Homo sapiens: one gene and its partner. The protein of the gene in region 1 purifies or fractionates together with the protein of each later gene. This does not show direct contact. Each region holds a gene or a part of one and is shown on either strand. Other genes may lie near its edges.

The links.
Region 2: the proteins of KIAA0586 (region 1) and CEP290 purify together in Homo sapiens (co-immunoprecipitation; one study listed by IntAct). This does not show direct contact.

What each region holds. Positions count from the first base shown.
Region 1 is NC_000014.9:58,542,564-58,546,394, forward strand, and holds part of KIAA0586 (protein TALPID3), read left to right. Parts: intron 1-1,319; coding exon of another isoform or gene 1,320-1,404; intron 1,405-3,831. UniProt on the Homo sapiens protein: Required for ciliogenesis and sonic hedgehog/SHH signaling. Required for the centrosomal recruitment of RAB8A and for the targeting of centriole satellite proteins to centrosomes such as of PCM1.
Region 2 is NC_000012.12:88,076,059-88,079,889, reverse strand, and holds part of CEP290 (centrosomal protein of 290 kDa), read left to right. Parts: intron 1-660; coding exon 661-798; intron 799-1,971; coding exon 1,972-2,193; intron 2,194-2,545; coding exon 2,546-2,668; intron 2,669-3,831. UniProt on the Homo sapiens protein: Involved in early and late steps in cilia formation. Its association with CCP110 is required for inhibition of primary cilia formation by CCP110.

The DNA of each region.
Region 1 (3,831 bases):
CACAGTTAACTAGAGTTTAAACTAGCATAACTATTTAGAGGCCTTCCAGAGTGTACTCTCTCTTTCCCCACTCCCTCTTTTTTTCTTAATTGTATTTCAGTGAAACATTCTTATTCCTCCTTCTAAAGCAGAGTACCTTTTGCAGCCCACCCTGAGCCTCATTGCCTCTTAGATAGTGGCTTTCCAATTACATAAAAGTAAGAGCTGATATGTTTGTGTGCTTTCTATGTTCCAGCACTATATAAAACACTTTGTATGTATTATCTGGCTGAATCCTCATAAAAACCTCTGAAGTCAGCCGGGCGTGGTGGCTCACACCTGTAATCCCAGCACTTTGGGAGGCCGAGGCAGGTGGATCACGAGATCAGGAGATTGAGACCATGGTGAAACCCCGTCTCTACTAAAAATACAAAAATTAGCCGGGCGTGGTGGCGGGCGCCTTTAGTCCCTCGCAGCTACTTGGGAGGCTGAGGCAGGAGAATGGCGTGAACTCAGGAGATGGAGCTTGCAGTGAGCCAAGATTGCGCCACTGCACTCCAGCCTGGGTGACAAAACGAGATTACGTCTCAAAAAAAAAAAAAAAAGAAAAGAAACACCTCTGAAGTTGGTACTCATATTTTTTTTATAGTTGAGAAAACTGGGGTTCAGAGAAGTTACGTAACTTTTTCAGTCTCTTATTATTTTCTATCCCTCTTACCTTTTACCTATTTTTCTTTATAGTACTTAGCACTTCCTGTTATATTAGATGTTTATTTCCTTACTTGTCATTCATCCCCTAAACCCAACAGAATGTGTGGCCAGTGAGGTTAGACCCTTTGTTTTCTTCACTGCTGTATTCTCCAGAGTCTAGAACAGTGCCAGGCACATAGTAGGTGCACAGTTGATATCTGTTGGATGGATGGATGAGCTCAGCTCTGCCCTGTTCCAGAATCCATTCTCTTATCCCCTCTGCCTTTTACTCCTTCCCATACAGAAGCCTCACATCAGCAGTCTGGGTGGGGCCATTCCTAAGTGACCTGATTTGGACCCTACTCTTGATCTGTCATGAAGAGACTTGTGCTTAAAATTTCATCACCGCTCCCAAGTTTGTTGGTGTTCTTATTACTGCCTAGTCAGTCAACCAAATCTGTCATTTCAGAGTGAAACTTGGTTCTTTATAAGTACTAAGTCTCCATCCAAAATATCTTGACCCTATTTCCACTGCCAAGGATCATTAGTTCTTCTATGGACTATTTTTATAGATCCGTCTCCCGTCTCTCTATTTTCCACACAGCTATTAGGATGATTTTTACCTCTTTTTTTTTTAACTTTTATTTTAGGTTTGGGGGTACATGTGAAGAAGGTTTCCTGTATAGGTAAACTCGGGCTGTGGAGGTTTGTCATACAGATTATTTCATCACCCAGGTATTAAGCCTAGTACCCAATAGTTATTTTTTCTGCTCCTCTTCTTCCTCTCACCCTCCAGTCTCAAGTAGATCCCAGTGTTTGTTGTTTCCTTCTTTGTGTTCATGAGTTATCATCATTTAGTTCCCACTTATAAGTGAGAACATGCAGTATTTGGTTTTCTGTTCCTGCATTAGTTTGCAAAGGATGATAGCTTCCAGTTTCATCCATGTTCCTGCAAAAGACATGATCTTGTTCTTTTTTATGGCTGCATGGTATTCCTTGGTATACATGTACCACAGTTTCTTTATCCAATTTGTCATCCATGGGCATTTAGGTTGATTCCATACCCTTCCTGTTGTGAATTGTGCCGCAGTGAACATTTGCATATATGTGTCTTTATGGTAGACTGATTTATATTCCTCTGGGTATAAACCCAGTAATGGAATTGCTGGGTCGAATGGTAGTTCTGCTTTTAGCTTCTTTGAGGAATCATTATATTACTTTCCATAATGATTGAACTAATTTACCCTCCTACCAAGTGAATAAGTGTTCCCTTTTCTCTGCAACCTCACCAGCATCTGTTATTTTTTGGCCTTTTAATAATAGCCATTCTGACTGGTGTGAGATGGTATCTCATTGTGATTTTGATTTGCATTTCTCTAATGAGCAGTGATATTGAGCTTTTATTCATATACTTGCTGGCCTCATGTATGTGTTCTTTTGAAAAGTGTTCATGTCCTTTGGGGTTGTTTTTCTCTAATACATTTGTTTTAAGTTCCTTATAGATGCTGGATATTAGACCGTAGATTTGCTCAAATTATTCCTGTGGTCAAAATTTTTTGTGACTCCTTACTGCTTTCACAGGACTTGGCCCTGGCCTTGCTTATCTCACCATTTCTCCTATCCAAACAATATTTGATATCAGAATACTCAGAGTTCCCTTAACACATTAACTTTATCTTGACTTTATTTTGTTATTCTGTTTTCCTTCATTGCCTTCCCACCATCTTTTCAGTCCCAACTCAATGGCTACCTTCCACTTCATTTAAGTATTCCTATACATGTTTATCTCCTCTACTAGGTGATGAACTTCTTGAGGATGAGGACTCTGTCTTCTTCATCTGCATATGCTCTTAGCTCCATACATGCAGAAGATTCATATAGATGTTTAGTTAGTGCATATATGCTTTTGGAGAAGCCCACTTTAATGTCTCTGGGCCTCAGTTGCCTTGTCTGTTTCTGAGAATTACTGTTAGGATCAGATAATATGATGAAAACGTATTTACAAAATTTGAATTGTTATACAAATATAAGGCAATAACTGCAAGAAATGCTTACAGTGATTGAATTCAGTATGTTCCTTGAGACTTGGAAACTTCTAGGAGATCCCTCCACCCTAAAAAGTTATAGCTCTTATTACAACATTGAGCAATTTAATCTGTAATTTTATGCACAAAGTAGAAAACGAAGGTATATACAAAGTGGTTTTGTGAAATTAAATAACAGAGAAAAGAAGAGTATTTGGTATCACTGTTGTTTTTGGCAGATGCATAACTCAAGGAATGGATTAGAAGGTAACATTAAGTTGTTTGTATGAGTGGAAAATTAATTTGCCCTAGGACTTAGTTATATCCAGTGTTAGTTTTTACTTTATTCATGAGGTGAGCTCTGATATTGGCTGCTTCCCTCAGTTATTTTGTGTATTCTGCATCATGGCTTTGTAAAATATAAGAATGTTTAAATATTATATATTATTAATGCTTGTGTCCTATACACATTTTTAAGGCCAGGCATGGTGGCTCACATCTGTAATGTCAGCACTTTGGGAGGCTGAAGAAGGAGGATCACTTGAGACCAAGGAGTTTGAGACAAAGGAGTTTGAGACCAGCCCCGGCATCATAGGGAGACCCTCCCTCTACAAAAAATTTTTAAAAATTAGCCAGGCATGGTGGTACATACCTGTGGTCCTAACTACTTGGGAGGCTGAGGTGGAAGGATCGCTTGAGCCTGTGAGGTTGAGGCTGCAGTGAGCCATGATCATGCCACTGCACTCCAGCCTAGGTGACAGAGCAAGACCCTGTCTCAAAAAAAAGATTTAAAAAATACAGTCTTTAGTGTCTATTCATTGCATTTTTATTACATCCTGACAAACTGAAAAGACTAAAATCTTTTCCTATTTGAAATATTCTATTTAAATTCACATAAAACTTGTTTTCTTTTTAAATACTATGGTATTATATTATAGTTTGTGATATTGCTGTAATGATACCAAATCTTATCTTCCTCTCTCTTTTTATAAAAAAATGAAATAGTAACAAAAAGGAGTGATACAGTATTTAAAATAGTCTTTATTAAATTTCCTTATATGAAAGGAATTTTCCTTTTACAAGTATTCTGAGCTTGGACAGCTATGATTGAGACATCATTAAAATCTCCAGAACTGTC
Region 2 (3,831 bases), on another chromosome or scaffold:
TTTTCTTTTTTTCTACTGGAATTTTATGCTACTGAGGCTATTTTTAACAAATGAACAATTTTGAACAATTTGAGGGATTGAGGGAAGTATGATAATGACAAAAAGGGATGAAAAAAGGGGGTCATAGAGATGTTTTTGTGAGAAGGAGTTGGTCAGTGTATTCTGATTTATTAGGGTTTTTTTTAGTTTATCTCAGATTTGATCTATTTAAATTGTTTTAGAAGATGCTGGTGTTTTTCTGTGCTAGCTATGAAATTTATGGGTAAACTTTAAGCCTTTCCTAGTCCTTTTGTTGTCTACCTAAATTCAATTAATTTCATATGGAAGGATGTAGTAAGTGAGTAATATAAATATCTAAAATTGGATGTTTGAAAACAAAACATACCTGTTTTTTGTAATAGCTTGATTTAATGCTGAGTTCTCAAAATCATTATTAAGATTTTGAACTTTCACATTCAATGTGGAAAGAATTGAGTGTAATTACAAAAGATTTATTTGAAAAAGTTGAGTTGTTAATTTGTGAAATATGTTCCATTAAACTCATAATATTTTAGAAAAATAGTAGGAAGTAATAAAGCTTGTTTATTTTTTATATCATATATTCATATAAAATGTCAGTTTTCCTTTAAAAATTACATTTTTTTTTTGGTTAATTTTTAGGCACTTAGTCGGGCACTTTTAGAACTCCGGGCAGAAATGACAGCAGCTGCTGAAGAACGTATTATTTCTGCAACTTCTCAAAAAGAGGCCCATCTCAATGTTCAACAAATCGTTGATCGACATACTAGAGAGCTAAAGGTGAACATCAACACGTGTTAATGTAACAAAATTTCTGATAATTCCTATTGGAAGAGAATTCACTATGATATATAGTAATTTTGTTGATGAATAGGGAATTTATAATGCACTGTTGGTGGCTAGACATAGACACACACATGCATTTTTCAACAATAAGTCTCTTTATGATACTCATTTACTGATTATCATCTTGGGGATTAGGAAAGGATAGGCCATTATGAACTACTGTTTCTAATGAAATTAAATTTAAGAAATATTTTACTTAGGATTTTTTTTAAGACTTTATTATTTTTTTAGAGCAATTTTAGGTTCACAGCAAAATTGAGAGGAAGGTACAGAGATTTCCTGTATATCTCCTACCCTGAAAGTGGTACATTTGTTAAAATTGATGAACCTATATTGATACATCATAATCACCCAAAGTCCAAGTTTACCTCTATTTTAGCTCTTGGTATTTTACACTCTGTGTGTTTAGACAAATGTATAATGATATGTATCCATCATTATAGTATTATACAGGGTATTTTCACTGCCCTAAAAATCTTCTGTGCCTCTCTTCTTCATTCCTTCCTCTGCACCTCACCAAACCCCTGGCAACCAGTGATCTTTTTACTGTCTCCATAGTTTCACCTTTTCCAGAATATGTTATAGATGGAAACATACAGTGTGTCCCCATCATTCTCACCATAGGACAGCTAGGAACTCCTTTCTAGTGGCATACATATTGTCTAGTATTGTAAGTTACCCTTTTATATCTTATCTTTGTAAACTAGGTTAGAAATTACTTCAAGTCAGAGATTTGTTCTGTACTACTCTTATGCTTCATAGTGTTTAAAACGTTGTCATATATATTGTTATATACTTGTTTGTTTAATTAATTCAGCCAAAATGAAACGTGCATATTTGATAAAATTTTGTTTGTGGGTGTTTGTTGAAGATGAATTGCTTTACACTAGTTTTTTTTTTTTTTCTCAAAGTCGACTTTTTTCCTCAAGGTAGACTTGACATGAATATGGAAAAATATATGTAGTTTGTGGTTATTTTTTTTCTCTTGTGTACTTAAAAATTCAGACTGAATTTTTCTTATAATGGTATATTTTCTGTTTTATGTTCCTTTTATCATTGATACTTCTTGAAGAGTCATGAATAATACCTTTCTTTTTCTCTTATTAGACACAAGTTGAAGATTTAAATGAAAATCTTTTAAAATTGAAAGAAGCACTTAAAACAAGTAAAAACAGAGAAAACTCACTAACTGATAATTTGAATGACTTAAATAATGAACTGCAAAAGAAACAAAAAGCCTATAATAAAATACTTAGAGAGAAAGAGGAAATTGATCAAGAGAATGATGAACTGAAAAGGCAAATTAAAAGACTAACCAGTGGATTACAGGTAATTTTATATTTAACTCTGATAATGTCTGATTTACAATATAGAGGTAGTAGTTTATTTCTACTTTATCATTTTATCTATGGTATTTGTTAAAACTGACTTTCAAATCACTTTGATTAATGTAATTAATTTCTTTTGTGACTTCTATTGTGTTTATAGTTCTAGAGTAGCATATTAGTATGTTGTATTAAAATGCAGAAGCAGCTACCAGATTATCTTATGTATTAAGTGTCATTTAGAAAGTATGGTCAGTGATAGCTTCAGAAAGTTGCTATTATATAATTGAAATATTTACTGTCTATTTTGTTTTACATTTATTTGTAAAAATATAAAGTTACATTTTATTTTTTAGGGCAAACCCCTGACAGATAATAAACAAAGTCTAATTGAAGAACTCCAAAGGAAAGTTAAAAAACTAGAGAACCAATTAGAGGGAAAGGTGGAGGAAGTAGACCTAAAACCTATGAAAGAAAAGGTATGTGAAGAAACATACTGACTTATATGCTTAAGGTAGTGACAGAGTAAGTTAAATACATAGCTGATTAACAGTTAATATACTGCCTTAATTTGATGACCTGGCTGTATTAATTCTGTATTAATTTTGAGGACTATAAGCAGTATTGAATAACGTAGAAAAGTCTAAGTTTCTGTTCTGTAGGAATTTAGAGTCTACTTGAGGAGATACCTATAATGTAACTCTTATTTGGAAATTACTACATCAATTTCATTCATCTTTCTGACATTAGAGTACCTCTGAAGTTCCTTCACACCTTAACATATTCAACTGTGTATCATTTCTCTCCAAAGTAATCATTTACACAGGTTGGTGCTTTTGACTTTTGGGACAGAAAGATAGACATTTTAAGATACCCCACTTTGACCCAAATAGGTCCTTTTTAATCCTTCAGGAGACTAGGCTGTTATTTCAGATAGCAAAGTTATTTGGAATATCTTCAGTATTTGCAGTAATAATCAGTAACCAATCTGCTCATAGATTAATTCTGTGGGAGAAATTGCTTAAAATTTTATAGTTCATAGTAAACTGTTTTGTAATAAAAATTACTGATTGAAATAACCCCAAAAAAAACTAAAATTGGCTAAAATGCGTGTAATTAAATTTGTTATGGACAATAAATTGGAGATAACTTGTTGGTAACATTCAAAATATCGAAAGTGAACTGGGAAATGTTGATGTTAGCAGTAATATTTGCCATTGAAGAAAATCAGTATGGAGGAGCTATGGTTAGGAAAATTTTTATTATAAAATTTACCCAGAAAATATTTAATGTCTATAAAATAATTTCAATCACATGAAAATGGAAAAGAAAATTCTGTCTTTAAAGGCATTGAATAGAAAATAGGTAATGGAATTCAAATTTCTTAATAGAGTATGCTCCCAAAATTATTTTCTATGAAAATTCATTAATGTCAGTGTAATTTATTGACACTATTTGCGTGGAGTCACAACATGCTTGCTGTCAGAAGCTTTGCTGGTGAAAACTGTAAGATCAAAGTGTCCTTAATCTTTTGGATTTCCATCTTTCTAACTCCCTAATTGGGGATAGGCCTGATCTTATCCCTAAATGGGGATAGGTTAGAAACTGGTATGTTTGTTCCTAACTGGTGTGTTTCTATACC